Regions from separate parts of the Homo sapiens genome. Here region 2 is linked to region 1. The links come from fine-mapping of genetic effects on gene expression. Tissue or cell type: whole blood. Region 1 holds a variant in brackets; the other region holds the start of a gene. All regions are shown on one strand. Distances are between the middles of the regions.

Evidence for each region. PIP is the estimated chance that this variant, and not a neighbour inherited with it, causes the effect.
Region 2: SORBS3 starts here. The variant in region 1 is fine-mapped to the expression of SORBS3 in whole blood (TOPMed, PIP above 0.99).

The regions. Positions count from the first base shown.
Region 1 is chr8:22,411,492-22,419,491 of GRCh38, reverse strand. It overlaps SLC39A14 (solute carrier family 39 member 14), which reads right to left. Exons shown (of 9, transcript NM_001128431.4): 4 at 7,286-7,455; 5 at 4,590-4,712; 6 at 3,535-3,723; 7 at 3,212-3,419; 8 at 1,657-1,841. Among named protein-coding and RNA genes, the nearest start is that of PPP3CC, 26 kb to the left of the region's middle. The variant A/G (reference allele first, on the strand shown) is at 3,318.
Region 2 is chr8:22,547,422-22,555,421 of GRCh38, reverse strand. It overlaps SORBS3 (sorbin and SH3 domain containing 3), which reads right to left and starts at 3,495. Exons shown (of 21, transcript NM_005775.5): 1 at 3,400-3,495; 2 at 814-970; 3 at 442-559. The coding sequence starts at 915. It overlaps LOC124901905 (a long non-coding RNA gene), which reads left to right and starts at 1,297. Exons shown (of 2, transcript XR_007060851.1): 1 at 1,297-3,260. RefSeq lists enhancers at 1,396-1,475, 1,589-2,464, 2,608-2,657, 2,465-3,342, 3,566-4,530 and 1 more and silencers at 3,328-3,407, 3,558-3,737, 4,048-4,177.

The DNA.
Region 1 (8,000 bases):
CAATTCAGTGATGGAGATATAGATCAGGTTGGTTGACAAAGAAAATTATCAGGGCCAGGTGCAGCGGCTCACTAGAGGTCAGGAGTTCGAGACCAGCCTGACCAACATGGTGAAACCCTGTCTCTACTAAAAACATAAAAATTAGCTGGGCGTGGTGGCGCAGGCCTGTAGTCCCAGCTACTTGGGAGGCTGAGGCAGGAGAATTGCTTGAACCCGGAAGGCAAGGCTGCAGTGAATGGAGATCACACCACTGCACTCCCGCCTGGGCAACAGAGCGAGACTCCATCTCCAAAACAAAACAAAACAAAAAAAGAAAATTAACAATAGCAGGTACCATGTCTTTACAACTGTCTAGGTAAAACAAAGTACTCAACGTGTATGTGGCTCTGGATGAGTTTAGAGGCTGGCTAAAAATAAATGTACTCTGATAAAAAATAAACTTTATATTATAGACTTTTTTTTTTCCTTTTTTCCACTCGCTCTTGCCCAGGCTCGAGTGCAGTGGTGCGAACATAGCTCACTGCAGCCTCAAACTCCTGGGCTCGAGCAATTGTCCCACTTCAGCCTCCTGAGTAGCTCCACAGGTGCCTGCCACCATGCCTGGCCTTATTATGGACTTTAAACACTTTAAGAGGTCTTTTTGTTATCAAGATATTATTAACAAGCTAGATGCAGTGGCTCACACCTATAATCCCAGCACTTTGAGAGGCTGAGATGGGAGGATCCCTTGAGGCCACAAGTTCAAGACCAGCCTAGGCAGCATAGAGACCCCATTCTATAAAAATTCAAAAAATTAGCTGGGCATGGTGGCTGGAGCCTGTAGTCCTAGCTGCTTGGGAGACTGAGGGAGGAGGATCACTTAAGCTCCGGAGTTCAAGGTTGCAGTGACCTATGATCACACACTGCACTCCAGGCTAGGTGAGTGAGGTTCTGTCTAAAAAAAAAAAATTAAAGAAAAAGACACACCCAATGCATTGAGATAAAAAAAGAAACAAACCAAAGTATTGCTATTATTGTTTTAGGGGTAGTATGATGTATGATTATGCGTAATTTTCTTTCCTTTCTTCTGTCTCTTATCTATATACAGCCATTCCATAATAATTAATAAAGACCATAGATAAATTATAATCATTTTCTTTAATGACATATGCTAACAAAAACATAAACTTTTCCTCCTTTAAAATCTAATGCCCCCTTAAAAACCGCTGAATGGTAGGTACACCTTAAACAGACGAACTCTGTGGTATGTGAAAGAAAGCTAAGGAAGATGTTATTAAAAACAAACTACCAGCCATGTGCGGTGGTTCATGCCTGTAATCTCAGCACTTTGGGATGCCGAGGCGGGTGGATCACCTGAGGCCGGGAGTTCGAGACTAGCCTGGCCAATATGGGGAAACCCCATCTCTACTAAAAATACAAAAATTAGCCAGGCGTGGTGGCACACGTCTGTAATCCCAGCTACTCAGGAGGCTGAGGCAGGCGAATCACTTGAACCCGGGACGCGGAGGTTGCAGTGAGCTGAGATCATGCCACTGCACTCCAGCCTGGGAGACAGAGTGAGACTCCATCTCAAAAAAATAAAAATAAAAAAAAACTACCTACCTAACATCCATCCCCTTAGCCGCCCTCTCATCCAGTGAACTGTGGAACACTTACCATATCAGCCAGAGAAATATACAAGAACATTCCTCCAGCTAGCGCAAAAATCCAGTTGGCAGAGAAGTGGCTGCCGGCCAGGATGCCAAAGGCCAGACCCAGGTAGCAGCAGCAGGCAGAAAGGAAGTTGAAGAAGAGAGCTTGTTGGATGCTCATCCCAGCGTTGAGCAGGATGACAAAGTCTCCTACAGCAGCGAGAATGAAAAGGGGAGGGACGAGGAAGGAAGAGTAAGATGGGCATGGTGAATGCACACCTGTCATCCCAGCTACTCAGGAGGCTCAGCTGGGAGGACTGTTTGAGCTCAGGAGTTTGAATCCAGCCTGGCGACAAAGTGAGAGCCAGTCATACAAGGTCGTGGGAGACAGAGGGCACCGATGACATCAGACTGCTAAAAGTGTGGGTGAAAAAAATCAAGACAGCCCTAGACTCAAGACAGAAGTGACAAGACAGGCCCTTGAACTTCCTGTTCAGGACCCGTCTCCATTTGCCAAACTGGCCGTATACCCAGCCTAAAGGCTGAAAATCTTTCTCAGGATTTTAAAAATAGATGACCAGCTGGCACTGGCCTCCTCATTTCTCTCTGGATTCATAGTGAAACAGAAGGAACCCCCTTCCTCACAACTACCATGGAAACAAAATCAAAACTGCGAGAAGTTAAGTGTCGAGACTGTGAGAAGTGATTTGCCCGAAGTCACAAGTCAATATATGGCAAAGCCAGAACTTGACCCTACGTCGTCCCTAAAGCCTCTGGAGTAATTACTAGCTTTTTACACTCTCCCTCTGATCAAACTAAGTCCCTCCTACCCCCTGGTTCATCCAGCTGCCATGCACCTGCCAGGCACCTGAGCCTTTGGAAGATTAACAGGCTACAAAAGAGAGCCTTTACTGAGTGCTCAGAATAGCACCTGGCACATGGGAAGTCCCTCTCACCCTTTGTTTTCCTTTAATCCTCACTATTATTCTAAAAGGAGGTGCTCTTATTAACCCCACTGTATAGGTGAGAACTGAGCCACTGCATATGGGGCTAAAAGGAAACAAACACCCCTGTAAAAACCCCATCATTTTAAATTATCTATTTAATCGTTAAGAAATGGTGGTTAGGCCACGTTCGGTGGCTCAAGCCTGTAATCCCAGCACTTTGGGAGGCTGAGGCGGGCGGATCACGAGGTAAGGAGTTCAAGACCAGCCTGGCCAACGTAGTGAAACCCTGTCTCTACTAAAAATCCAAAAAAAAAAAAAAAATTTAGCCGAGTGTGGTGGCAGGCGTCTGTAATCCCAGCTACTTGGGAGACTGAGGCAGGAGAATCGCTTGAACCCAGGAGGTGGAGGTTGCAGTGAGCCGAGATCACATCACTGCACTCCGGCCTGGGCAACAGTGCGAGACTCCGTCTCCAAAAAAAAGGTGATTAGGGTCCATGAAGCTTTAGGAGTGTGTTAAATCAGTTACAATAAGCACTGTGAAGACAGGGAGATGGGAGCAAGGAACCGGCCACAGGAAGGGGGCCTACACCACCACCCAAGGGAGCACCAGTGGAACGGGGGACGCACGCTTACCTAGCTCATGTGGGAACTCCTCACAGAGGATGGCCACCGAGGTGCTGATGCCTTGGAAAACTGACACAGTGAAGGAAGCACCGATGGCCAGGCCATCGATGAAATT[A/G]TGGAGGCCGTCGCTCAGAGTGATCATCCAGGCCAGAGTGCCGATATCAGAGTAGCGGACACCTTTCAGCCAGTAGCAAGCACTCTGGGAAGCCTGCAGGTCCTAGGAGAAAGCACACCCCCAGGGCCCACAGCGTCAAAGGCTGGACCATGTGCCCTCAAGGTAAGCCTGAGTCAACCTCTTAGAGGCTCCACCAAGCAGCTGGTGGCCCACTGACCTGCACAGAGAGCGAGCCCACAATGACCTTCTCGTCCACCATGGGCGCCTTGCCGTCCAGCTCACTGCTGCAGTGCTGAGGAATCATGTGGTCCAGGTCCCCGTTCTGCAGCTTCTCCATCACCCCCTCCTCCTGGTCCTTCTTGGAGGGAAGCGACTCAGAGGCATAATGGCTGTGTCCATGATGATGCTGGAAGGGTGACAGGGAGGGATCAGCATGACATTCACCAAAACCACAAACCTGATTGAGCACCTGCTCCAAGGAAGTGCTTCACACACTGGAAGACCTCAGCCTTACCATCGAAGATGACACAAGCAGGTCACGTGCCCAGAAACATAGCAAAAGCTATTATATAAAGCCATGGTCGGGCACGGTGGCTCACACCTGTAATCCCAGCACTGTGGGAGGCCGAGGTGGGAGGACTGCTTGAGCTGAGAAGTTTGAGAGCAGCCTGGGCAACGAAGCGAGACCCCGTTTCTAATATCTATATATATAAATCTGCACCAAGTGCGAAGGACCTGGTGTCAGACAGATATCAAAGCTGTCTCCTCGGGGTACATGCTTATTCCACCAAGGCAGCCACTGCTCAAATATTTAGAGCTCCTCTTTTGCAATGGCTAATCTCACTCAATTCAGCAGCTATTTAGGGAATAACTGCATGCCAGCCACTAAAGATATCTTTTTGAAACTGTACTATAATAGTCCTGTTTCTCTGCAGCCTCATACTTCATACAGAATGAATGCATGGTATCAAGCTCTTCTCCCCATCCTGTAAAGATACAAATATATTAAGGAAATAATCTTAGAACAAAACAAAGGGGATAAACTACTGCTTAGTAGAAGGCACCCTGGCCAGATCTAGTTTCTGGTCTGGCCTCACTTCTGGCCAAATATCCTCAGGAGGTGAAATGGGATTGTCTCCTCAAGAAATTAGAGTTTCACGGAAATTGTGATATTGGGCTAAGACCATCACCACCACCACCACAATACATCAACATTGTTTGAGATGGGTGTTTTCCCTAGAAGAGCTTTCTTCAGCAACAATTGGGCCTCACCTCATTTTTCTGCTTAAGAAGAATCTTCAAGATCTTCTCTGTGAAAAAGAAAAGATAAAAGCCCCCAAACACCACTGCAGACTTGGAGACATAATAATCTTCCAGAGGGTTGAAACCAAATGCCTGTGGACCCAGGAAAAGAAAATGAGTTTTAAAGAAAATAAAGCATCTTTACTGATCCCCCTCTTATCTCTTAACTACTTCCTTGACTCTAGGAAAGGAGAGAGGCATAATGGAGTAACTCTGCCGTCTACCCATCCTCTTTCCAGCAAAAATCTAGTCCTTGGTGTTTCCCTGATGTGACATCACTAAACCTGCCAGGTTCTTCTCAAGCTTATTTGCTGATGCAAAAGACTGATCATCTGTAGAATTTTAATCCCAGAAAGAAAAACCTCCGATATGGTTTTCCACTTTTGATTTATCTTGGTGCTTTGCTATGAAGGCATTCTCTGCCAATAGATTTCATATTGAAGGAGCAGACACTTGTATTTATTTTCATCTTATCTAGTGTTCCTGGCTGACCTGCCTGTAAACACAAAGGGAGATGGTGTAATTATACTTTCTAAAACGGGAAACCCATTTCCCAGTTAAGTAATAAGAACTGCAGCGTTTTCCTAACCGCAGACCTCCCAGTGACCACAGAACCAAGAAAGTGGACTGTGTTATTGCGAGCGTCAATTTTTGGGTTTTGTTTTGAGTCCTTTCTGAAACTGTCACTTATCAAAGAGGGAGGGGAGAATCCACTGGGAAGAGGACAGGAGTAGAAATCAAGAGAATTCTGTCCTAGGGTAAGCTCCTGATTTATGGTGGGTTCTTGTGAATGTGTCTAATGACCTGGCCGGGCACGGTGGCTCATGCACTTTAAAGGACCGAGGTGGGTGGATCACTTGAGGCCAGGAGTTTTGAGACCAGCCTGGCCAACATGGCGAAACCCCAACTCTACTAAAAAAAAAAATACAAAAATTAGCTGGGCCTGGTGGCACACCTGTAATCCCAGCTACTCGGGAGTGTGAGGCAGGAGAATGGCTTGAACCCAGGAGGCAGAGATTGCAGTGAGCCGAGATGGCACCACTGCACTCCAGTCTGGGTGACAGAGTGAGACTGTCTCAAAAACAAACAAAAAAAAGTATCTAACGACTTGCTCCTATTTTATTCTTAAATTTTTTTGTGGGTACATAGGAAGTATATATATTTACCGGGTTGTTCCTCCATTTTCTGATGGGAAACGGGCCTTGAATAAACTTCAGCCCTCTCATGAATTGGTCCAAAATAAAAGTTGATCCCAACTTCAAGGAACTCTGGGCTGTTTGTTGCCTTTATGTTTTAAACAGGCCAAATTGAATCACCACCCTCCAGGGAAACAACACTTTCATGTTGACTTTCCAGGGGAGTCGAATCATCTTGGGGGAAAAGTGAAGTGAAAATAGGCAACGAACACTTCTCTGCAAAAAGCCACAAAGGATGGTGAATACAGAATCATGGGGTTGAGCTTCAGAAATCCCAAAAGCTGGGTTCTCGACTCAGGGATATGCGCTCTTGTGCAGGTCAGATTCCAACGTGGTAAAACGTTACTTGTTCTATCGATGCCATGGAGTTAACCTAAGGATCCACTAGGAGGGAGCCAACTGACATTTCAGAAAACACCAAGTGTTGTAAGAGGCGCATGCAGTCATCTCTGCTTCAACTGCGGCTCTGTCCAGGCCTGCGAGACCACCCACAGGGAGACGTCCTGTGCTTATTGTAATTAATGGGTCTGCTGAGGGGATTACACCAAATTAGATGAACCATCAGCTCCTTCTTTTGTGGCAAGTTTTCTCATGAACTTATTAGGCAAAGGTACCATCAAGGTATATAAAACCAGACATTGTTTGACTTGCATTGCCTTTGCCCCAAAACTCCCTATGGACAATCTTTTTACTGAGAACTGTGGGTTCTGATGATGTGGGAGTTTGTTTGTTTGTTTTGAGACGGAGTCTCACTCCCGTCACCCAGGCTGGAGTGCAGTGGTGCAATCTCGGCTCACTGCAGCCTCCATCTCCTGGGTTCAAGTGATTCTTGTGCCTCCCGAATAGCTGGGATTACAGGCGTGCGCTACCACGTCTGGCTAATTTTTGTGTTTTTAGTATAGACGGGGTTTCACCATGTTGGCCAGGCTGGTCTTGAACTCCTGACTTCAAACGATCCACCTGCCTCAGCCTCCCAAAGTGCTGGGAATATAGGTGTGAGCCACTGCACCCGGCTGATGATGTTTTTTAAACTTCTCTGCACCCAAAGCCTTAATCTGAGCACCACAACTAAGCCAGAGTGAGCTCGCTACACTGCATCTTTTCACCCCACATCAGACAGCACTTTCCGCACCAGGCACTCAGTGCTGCAGCAGACTCGCTCGTTCCACCCTCACAACATCATCCTGAGGCCGGTCTATTGCTCTCCCCATTTCACATCTGAAGAAACAGAGGCAGTGTGAGGTCAGTGGTGTGCCTGGGGTTACGGAACCTACTGATAGCAGAGCTGAGATTTGAACCCAGCTCTTCAGCCTATGCTGGGCTGCCTCTCCTAGTTCACGCCTAAGTTCTAGCTTCGCTTTCCAAAAGGAAAGGGCCTCCAGGTGCCCTCTCTATGCCTTCTATCCAAACGGAGGTCCTCCCACTGTGCCCGCCGGCATGCTCCGGGGTGAAGGCCCTGGCTTGCCATACCTCCGGGATGAGCTGGAAGAGGGCGTTGGAGTAGAGGGTTCCAATCGCCAGAGCTATGAAGTAGAGCAGCAGCCTCTTGTAAAAGGTCTTCTTCATGAAGGGCACCACGCTGGCCCCCAGGAGGGAGCAGAGGGAGATGACGGTCACACAGAGGAGACCGTATCCCCACACTGCCGTGCGGAGGGAGGGCCAGCCCCACCCAGGGCAGGGAGAGAAGGCACATGCCCCATTGCACAGCAACCACCATTTAGCGGGAGGAAGGTGGAGCAGATAGGGAGGTCGCAAGGAAAAGTTTGGTGGATATTAACGGAACAAAAAAGAAAAATCAGAGAGAGACAAGTAGGGAGGGAGAGAGAAATAGAAAATTTGTTAGTGATTCACATCTGATGAAATTTCCTTCAATCAGTTCAGAAGAAAGAGGAATTCAAGGTGGCCTTGGAACCCTGTGACTTCTGCCCCTGTGGCCACTGGTGGCCCCAAATCGTTCCTGCCAGTGGTGTGACTGGCAGGGCAGGGTGCTGCCTCGTCACACACCCAAGGTCTGCCCAGACCTATCACAGAGGCTGTCCAGGACAGACTTTGGACTCGAGGGCTCTCTTTATAGGACATGCAAGCAGGTGGAAAGAGGCTGATCACTCTGCTGCTGCGTTTGCTTTTGCATGTCCAATTCACACGGCGCAGGCTCGGGTGACACCACGACCACTTGGTTTGCTTT
Region 2 (8,000 bases), 140 kb before region 1:
CCAGGAGTTCCCAGGACCTCTGGACTGGGATCTAGAACTGCCTCTCTAACCTCCTGCTGGGTAGCCTGTTGGGCCTGAATGGGACAGTCTCCACCCCTTCCCAAGCCAACAGATACCCACATCACCTCCACCCTTCCATCCCCAGTCCCTGTGGGAGGTCCTCCGGCGCCCAGGGCTCCTGCACGCTTCCTTTCCCTGGCACCAGGCTGGAGGGCAGGGGAAGGGATGCATCAGCCTGCTCTCCCCAAGCGGGTGTCTCTTGCAGAGTCAGCAGGCTCCGCAGGGAGGGGCTCATAGTGAGCCCAGAGGCCTCTGAGGAACCTCCTCATGGCCTTGAGAACCCCATCTCCAGCTGCTGCCCCTCCCGCTTGACACAGGGCAGTGCCAGATGGCAGGGCCCTGACCCTCCATCTCCAGCATGAGGCTCCTGAGCAGACCTACCCGGGTGCTGGGAAGCATCTCGTCTTGGTGTGTAGCCCCCATTGCACACAGTCCTGGGCGCGGGGTCGTGGAACTGGAAATTAAGGGTGTTGGAGCCACCATTCCGGATCACGGGCACCTGCGGGGAGGGGCCAGGAGCGGCAGCTCAGGGCCCAGCAGGGCGGGAGGGAGGGATGGCTACTAGGCACAGCCCACACCCCTCGGTGACAGTCCCAGGCCCGCCTGACGATTTTGTGGGAAACCAGCGAGGCCCCCCAGAGCTCTCTTCAGCCCTCCCTCCATCCCTTTCATCCTCCTGCCCCCACCTGACCTGCTAGCGTCCCAACCAACTCCGGGCCCGCAGGACACCCTCCTCCCTACTGACTCACTCACCCGTGTCCCCCGGGAGGAAGACCCTATGTGGGACTGGAGGTGGCCAGGGATGAAGTCGTCCAGGCTGAGCCCAGCGCGGAGGCTGCGGGGTGGGCCCTGCATGCTTGGGTCAAGGTGGGAGGACTCCGGGCAAGCCAGCTGCTCCTCTGCGTGTCCTCTGTGGGGAAGGAGGAAGGAAGGGAAAGCCCTGCTAGGCTAGGCTGCCCATGCCCTCTTGGCTCGACCCTGGGATAGGGGAGGAGGGGCCGGCTGTGGGAGGGGGTCAGGACCAGCTGGGTACTAGCTCAAGGACCCAGGAAACAGGCCACGCCAGGCACCCGCCTGCAGGCTGCCCGTGCCTGCCGGCTCCCAGGGGCACAATGGACCACTTGTTAGGCCCAGGGCAGGAGCTCCGGGTGGGAGTGGGGGAGGGGGAGCTTGGGTGAGGAGGAGGGGAGGGGCTGGCCAGGAGCCCGTGGGGCTCTCCCTGCACGGGTGCAGCTGGCTTCCCCACTCCCCCGGAGGGAAGGCGCAGGGGAAGTGGGGCAGCCGGCAGAGAGGGGGCCTGGGAACACAGGACTTTGTTTCAGTTCCCTCTGCCTCCCCCAGGCCGTGTGGGCATCTCTTGCCTGCGGGCACAAGGGATTACTCAGCCACCCGCCCACTGCCCTCCAGGAAGCAGTCAGCAGGGCCTTAAGCCCAATAGGGCCAAGGGGAGCGTCGGGGGCATTTCCAGGCAGCAAGACCCACTCTTGCGAGCTCACAGGGAGCATCGGGCCCTTCTTTGGCCTCCTTCACAGAATGAGGACTCAGAGGGCTCCGGGTGGGTGGAGACAGAAGCGGTGGGTGAGGGCAGAGCTGAACCTGCTCATGCCCATGGAGAGTTGGTGCTGAGTGCCCTGGGGTGTTCTGCATGTGGGCAAATGTGCACGCACATACACGCGCTCCCTGGCTCCACTTTCTCCCGCCCCTCCAGGCTGTTTTGTGAGTGCAGGGTCTTCCCTGGCAGCACCATGCCTGCCCACAGCCAGCTTCTTCTGCCTCATCCCAAGGCTGGGGAAGGGGAAGGGAGCCCTAGGCACCCAGGGAATGGAGGGGCAAGAGGGGAGCCCAGAGTGGGGGTGCAAGAGGACAAAAAGGGGCTCCCAGTTTGGGGTGTCCAAGGGGGCTTTTTGACCCAGAGCACGGTGCTACGGCGTCCATCCCTCCGCGTCTTGGCTGCTGGACTGGACCAGAAACAGCCAAGCTCTGCCACTGCCCAGGACTGGATGGAATCAGGTTTGCCTGTGCCTGTGGGGTCCTTGGGGGCTCTCAGGGAGGGCTGCAAATGCATCGGGAGGAGCTGTGTGTATGTGTGTGTTGGAATCTGGGTGCAGAGCTGCGAATATGACTTCTGGGGGGACCACCGGAGGGACCACATGAGCTGCATGGGGGTTGTGGGTACAGAGGGGTGTCAGCTGAACAGTGGTGGGAGGTGCAGTCATGTGAGCAGTGGAAGAGTTGGGGGCCCAGAGGGGATGAAGGTAGAATAAGGCTGGGATGACTCAGCCCCTGGACCCAGCTCCTGCCCAGGGCTAGCGAGGGTGTAGCCAAGGCTGGGGGCAGCTCCTTGTCTCTGGTTTGAGTTTGTGGGGACTCCTGACATTTGAGTTGCTGCGACACAGCTCTTCTGTGCCCATGCCTGACTGGGGGGAGTGGAGGGCTGAGGCTGGAGGAGGAGCAGCTCCCCAGCTGGGTCCAATTAGGACTCCCACCAAAGCAAAACAGGCAGACACACCCCAGTCCCCACACTCCACCTCCCCTTGCGGGGGGGAGTTGAGGCAGGGTGGGGTGGAAGGTCAGGAGACCTGGAGCTGGTCGGCTCCTCGCAGCACCCCTCCCTGCCCAGCTGACTGCTTCGGGCCAAATTGCAGCTCAGCAGCTGCCGCCTGGGCCATCAGCTGACAGCGCCTTCCTTCCCTGACCTCCCCGCCCACCTCGTGCTCGGTGAGAACTGCTCTCTTGGAGGATGGGTAGGGCAGGAGGTCCCCCACGACCCGTAGTCAGAGGTTGCTTACCCTTGGTGCCCCCATCTGCCCCTTCTCAACCCTGCCCCTTGTGTCGCCCCCCACCACAGGAACCTCCAGGGAAGGGTGGTCCGAGTCCTTCTCTTGGCAGCCAGGTCAGGAGACTTAGGGAGGACTTACAAGGAAGAGGGCAGCATCTGGGGACTGGTCCCCCATGTAGCAGAGAGCGGAGGGGTCCTCCCAGAATTCAGACCTCCCCTCCAGGCAGGCAGCCAGCCCCGGGAGCGGGGAGAGGCCCCTGGAGCGGGAGAGGGGAGGCGGCTCTGCTGGGGTGGGCACTGGCCTCCCTGCTCTGAACACTGCCCTGACCTTGGGTGCCTGGCCCTAAGAGCTTTCCCAGGTATTTCTCAGCGACAAGGCCACGTGGACAAGGACAGCTTTTCTTGAATTTCGCTTTTTCTGGTATGAGGGCTGGTGGGAGGTACTTCCCAGAGTTTGGGACGCGGACCCCGGGGAGGGGCTAGGTGCGATTCCCTGGGGTTGGGCACGGATCCCTCCCGCCGGCCTCGCCTACTCCCCGCCCCTCCTTGCCCGGACCTACCTTCCCCGGCGAGCAGGTGGCTGGGCCCGAGGCCGCCCGGGAGCGCAGGAGCATCCCTGCCCGGCTGCTGCCTGGCGCGGGCGCTCGAGGAGGAAGGGCAAGGAGAAGCGCGGGCCGTCGCGGCCCTCGTGACCGGGTCAGGACGGGCCGGGCCGGGCCGGGCGCCGGCGCAGGAAGAGGGAGGCCGAAGGGGCGCGCGCCGGAGGCCGGACCGTGAGAGTCGCGCGGCGGGGCGGGCGGAGTTTGGGTCTCGGATCTGGACTGCGGGCCGGGGCTGGGCCGGAGAGGAGGGACGTGCGAGTGCTCTCCGTCCGTCGGGGCGCGCGCGGGGACACTGGTGGCCCCCTGCCGAGGAGGCCTGGCCGGCGGGGAGGCGGCGCCGGGAGGGGCCGCCGAGGGTCCCCGGGGAGCCCTCTCTGGTTTCCCAGCTGCCATCCCGGCCCCTACCGCAGGGCTGGCGTCGGGGAGGGGTCGGGCGGCCCGACACGGGCCACTCAGAGTTTCCAGCGACATTTCCAGAGTGTGGGAAGCGAGCGGCCTCGCAGCGGAGCCAGGACAGGGGCAGGAGCGATGAACCGGGCGGAGCCAGGACAAGGGGGCAGGAGTGGTGAACTGGGCAAGCCGGGAGAGACGGACAGGCCGGGAGCGAGATGAGGGCGCCCCGCAGGCAGAGTGGCGGAGCGGACCAGGGGAAGGCCCCGCCGCCCCTCCGCGCTGGGGGAGAGGGTGTGCCTGCGGCGGCGCGCGGCCGGTCGTGTGCAAACAAACACGCGCGCGTACACTGCAAACGTGGGGACGCTCACACACGTGCAAGCACAGGGAGGAAATCAGCCCAAGGGAGCGGCCCCCCCGGGCGTGCCGCGCCCCTAAAGAGGATAAGGGTGGGGTCCCTTTGGCGGGGATGGGATTAGGAGGGTCTTGGTGTTCCCAGACACTGTGTTTGTTTTGATCTGCCTGCTTTTCCGCTGTTCTCGCTGCTCTGAGCTGGGTCCCCAGAGCCCCGGCCCTTCCGGCTCCCCATCCATTCTGGTCATCCCCTCTCCCTGTCTCTGCCCCAAGCCTCTGTATGGCACTTCAGAAAGTGGGAATGCTTAAGGAACATTGAAGGACCGTGGAAACACTCTGGAATCCTTTCTGGCCCTTGAGTTGGCTCAGGGATCCCCAAGCCCCAAACCAGCCAACCAACCAACAGTTACTGATCAACTTTAGCTACGAGCTGGGAGTGATCAATGCTAAATTATGAAAACTAACGTAATCTCCTGCATTCCTACTGGGTGTCAGACTGGTGCCAGAGGCCACGAGGAGTTTTGGAGTGTTTTCCAAGCTCACCACTCAACTCAAAGTTTGGAAAGAAAGAGAGTAGAGAAAAGACTAAGTGATTTTCAGTCCCTACCACCATTACTGCTTTAGTCTTATCTTCTCCCTCGTTCTGGTAAAGAAGCTCTCCCCGTTGCCTTGAAACATCACATGTGAAAGCTGGAGGAGATGTTTGGGTTGAGAAGCTTCAGATAGGCCTGCTGGCCTCTAGCGCCTGCGGGGCTGCCATGTGGACACACAGCTGCACCAGCAGCAGTGGGACCACTGGGGGACACGTCATAGGGAAGCAGGTCCAAGGCTTCCCAGGACAAATTTTTACATGATTCCAGGGGTTCTGAGTCTGCCAGTTGTGGGGCATCTATGTAAAGGCAACTGTTGCACTGAGCGGGGAGCTGAACAAGATGACCTTGAAGACTCCTTCCAAGAACCTCTGACTCTCCAGGAAGGCGGAGAGATGGGGATGGCAGGGGCATTGCTGTGGAGGACAGCTGAGCAGTGGGGGAACCCTGGGACACTTCTTGAGGGACGCAGCAGTGCACTGCCCCCCAACCTGAAGCTTAGAAACCTTCTTATCCACGCCAGGTAGCCTCTTCCCTCCCTCAGGGATAAAATAGGTGCCCATTTTCTTAGACACGCATTTTTCCCACCTGTCAGGGTCCTTGGGACTAAGAAGGACCACATCGCTTTCACTTTCTTCCTTCTTCTCCCAAGATGGTGAAGCTGAAGCTCTTCCGACTCCAGGAATCCTGGCCATACCCCCTCACCAGCAGCAAGCTTCTCTTATTCTCTAGGGCTCTGACCTGGACTCCAAGATAAATATTTAGTGTAGAGGGTGCAGCAGAGCTGACAAAGTTCCCCACTTCCTGTTTCTCACAAAGGGAGGTGGCAGCCATGGGTAAGGAGCTGGGGACTGGCTACCAGTTTCATCTCTATGGGAATCGGGCGTTGAGTAAACAGCTTTGCAGGAGGAGGCGGGGTAGGTCTACGGGAGACCTGAGCTTTCTTCCTGAGCCGCTTTGACTTCTGCCTGTCTACTTAGGCCTGGGCTCTGCCGGGTTTATCACCTCTCTCAGGTCAGAATCCACCATGTTCCGTGGTGCCCATCTGGCCTCACAGCCGAGAGGATGGGAGACAGTGGGCCACAGGGCAGGGAAAACATAAGGAAATTTGACTGATTCCTCCCTTTCTGCCCTTATCTAAAGAGAAGAATTCCTTCTCTTTGAAAAGTAGATTAAGGGGGGAAAAGTAGCAGGGTTTGGAGATTGAGCCAGGAACCAGGTGTCTGATTTCCCGACGCCTCCCTCTAGCGTCAGCTCCCCTTGCTGCCTCCACAGCTGGCACGGTTAGGGAGAGGCTGAGGCTGGGAAGATTGTCCTAGATAAGGCGGCTGGCCGGCTGGCTGTCAACAACAGAACAGATTCCTTTCCTTTCCAAATCCCACTGCACTCTCTCCTTTGCATGCACGACTCCCCTGTCTAAGAGGGGCCTCCCTCCCTGCAAGTCGCGGCTTCCCCACCTCTGGCACTGCCCTTTGTCAGGGGCTGCCTCTGCCTTCTCAGAGCCACCTGAGCCACAGTAAACACAGTTACATAACTGCCCTGTTTTCCCAGCTACCTGATCCCAGGCATCAGTATTCCCCGCTCAAGCCCTTGAGGCTGCACCTTTTGTTCTGTGGGTAGTCCCCAACATCACCGTCAACAGGGGTCTGTCCACAACCCCCACCCCCCTGCAGGGGAGGATTAGCCACGGGACTACCAGTAAATGTGGCTCTTCACAGGGAGGGGGAGAAGGCGGTGGAATGCGGGTCACTCTGAAAAGCAATCTCTGTCACCAAGGATGACAAATGAGGGGAAAGAGCACTGAAGTGAAGGCGGGGTGAGCGGGGTGGGCAGAGCACCCAGTTTTAGTTCTCAAGTGGGAAAAGGGAAGCCAGGGGTCCCAGAAGACATGAACCCGGACTCAGTTCTTGAGGAGCGCCTTGCTCTGGTGCTGGGAATCGGCAATTCAGATGAGTCACCCTCTGAGATCTACCCTGGGCAGCTAGGCGGCCCTAGCTCTGTGCCTCAGTACCCCCATGGAGATACAGGGCATCTGCTCTTCCTTTCTTCTCCTCCCCAGGGATGAACTTCAGGTGCTTTGAGTAGATTTTTTGGGGGGTTTTGCTCTCAGAATTCTGAGTGTTTTCTTCCTTCCTCTAAGCTGAGCAGTCAGACCAGAAGGGGTTAGCGCAGAAAGCACTGCCCGTTTCCAGCAGTTTGGACTTCTCTAGAAGGCCACAGTGACACAATGGTGAGGAATTGAAACCAAGTCACATGGACATACCAGCAGGAATCTGGACTATGTTTCATGCCCTGGGCTCCATCCCTTTCTCCTGGGTCCTCTGTTGATTCCTGCTCCTGCAAATGTTGCCAGCCAAGTTCTACTGATGGCCCTTTCCATGCCAACCACTCATGGGAACAGGAGCAGGCAGAAGAAGGGAGTGCAAATGACCCATTTTGGGGCTTCAAAGGGCCTCCTATGCTGACAATGGCATGACGTGGCTCATCTGGAATTCAAGATTTCTGGTAGAGTCACTGTAGAGTGAGGGATCTGAGTGAAAAAATACCCAGTACAGGTCAAGTATGATGGGTATTGGGGCCTGACAGCCAGGATGGGTGCATGGAACCCCATAGGAATAGCGAATTAGGCTCTCAGGCTTGCCTGGCACAGACCTTTCCATAGCACACGCATGATGTATAATGGGCATCTATTCTGGGTTCTCAGGGCCAATCTCCCAAAGGCTGCGGGAGAACTCAGCCGTTTGCCCAATTTATCCCGCCTGTCCTCAAGGAAGTTTTGATACTGACATCACATCCACGGCTGTTCTCTCTTCCTCTTTTCATGGATGAGCAAACAAGCACAATGCACAGACGGGGTGTCTTTGAGAAGAACTGAGCTGGGTGAACCTCTCTTAGTTCTCAGGAAAGATGAAACAAACAAGTGGCTGTCAGCTCTAGAAAGTAGATTTTATAAGGGAAGGATAAGTAAGTGATGACCTCAGAGGGAAAACCAAGCCAAGTCAACTCAGCCACAAAGGAGGGCACAGACCCAGGAGCTGGGAAATTAGGTCTGCATCAGCCTTCTTTCCCAGCTCAGGTAGACTGCGATGGGTAGGATAAGAGGGCTGATCTGTTGGCCCAGTGGATACCATAAAGTACGGCTCTGGCCTCCAAACAAAGAAGAACCTTGTCTTCCCACCTCCTTGAATTCTATGATGAACCTTCGCCTTAATAGCATCAACATTA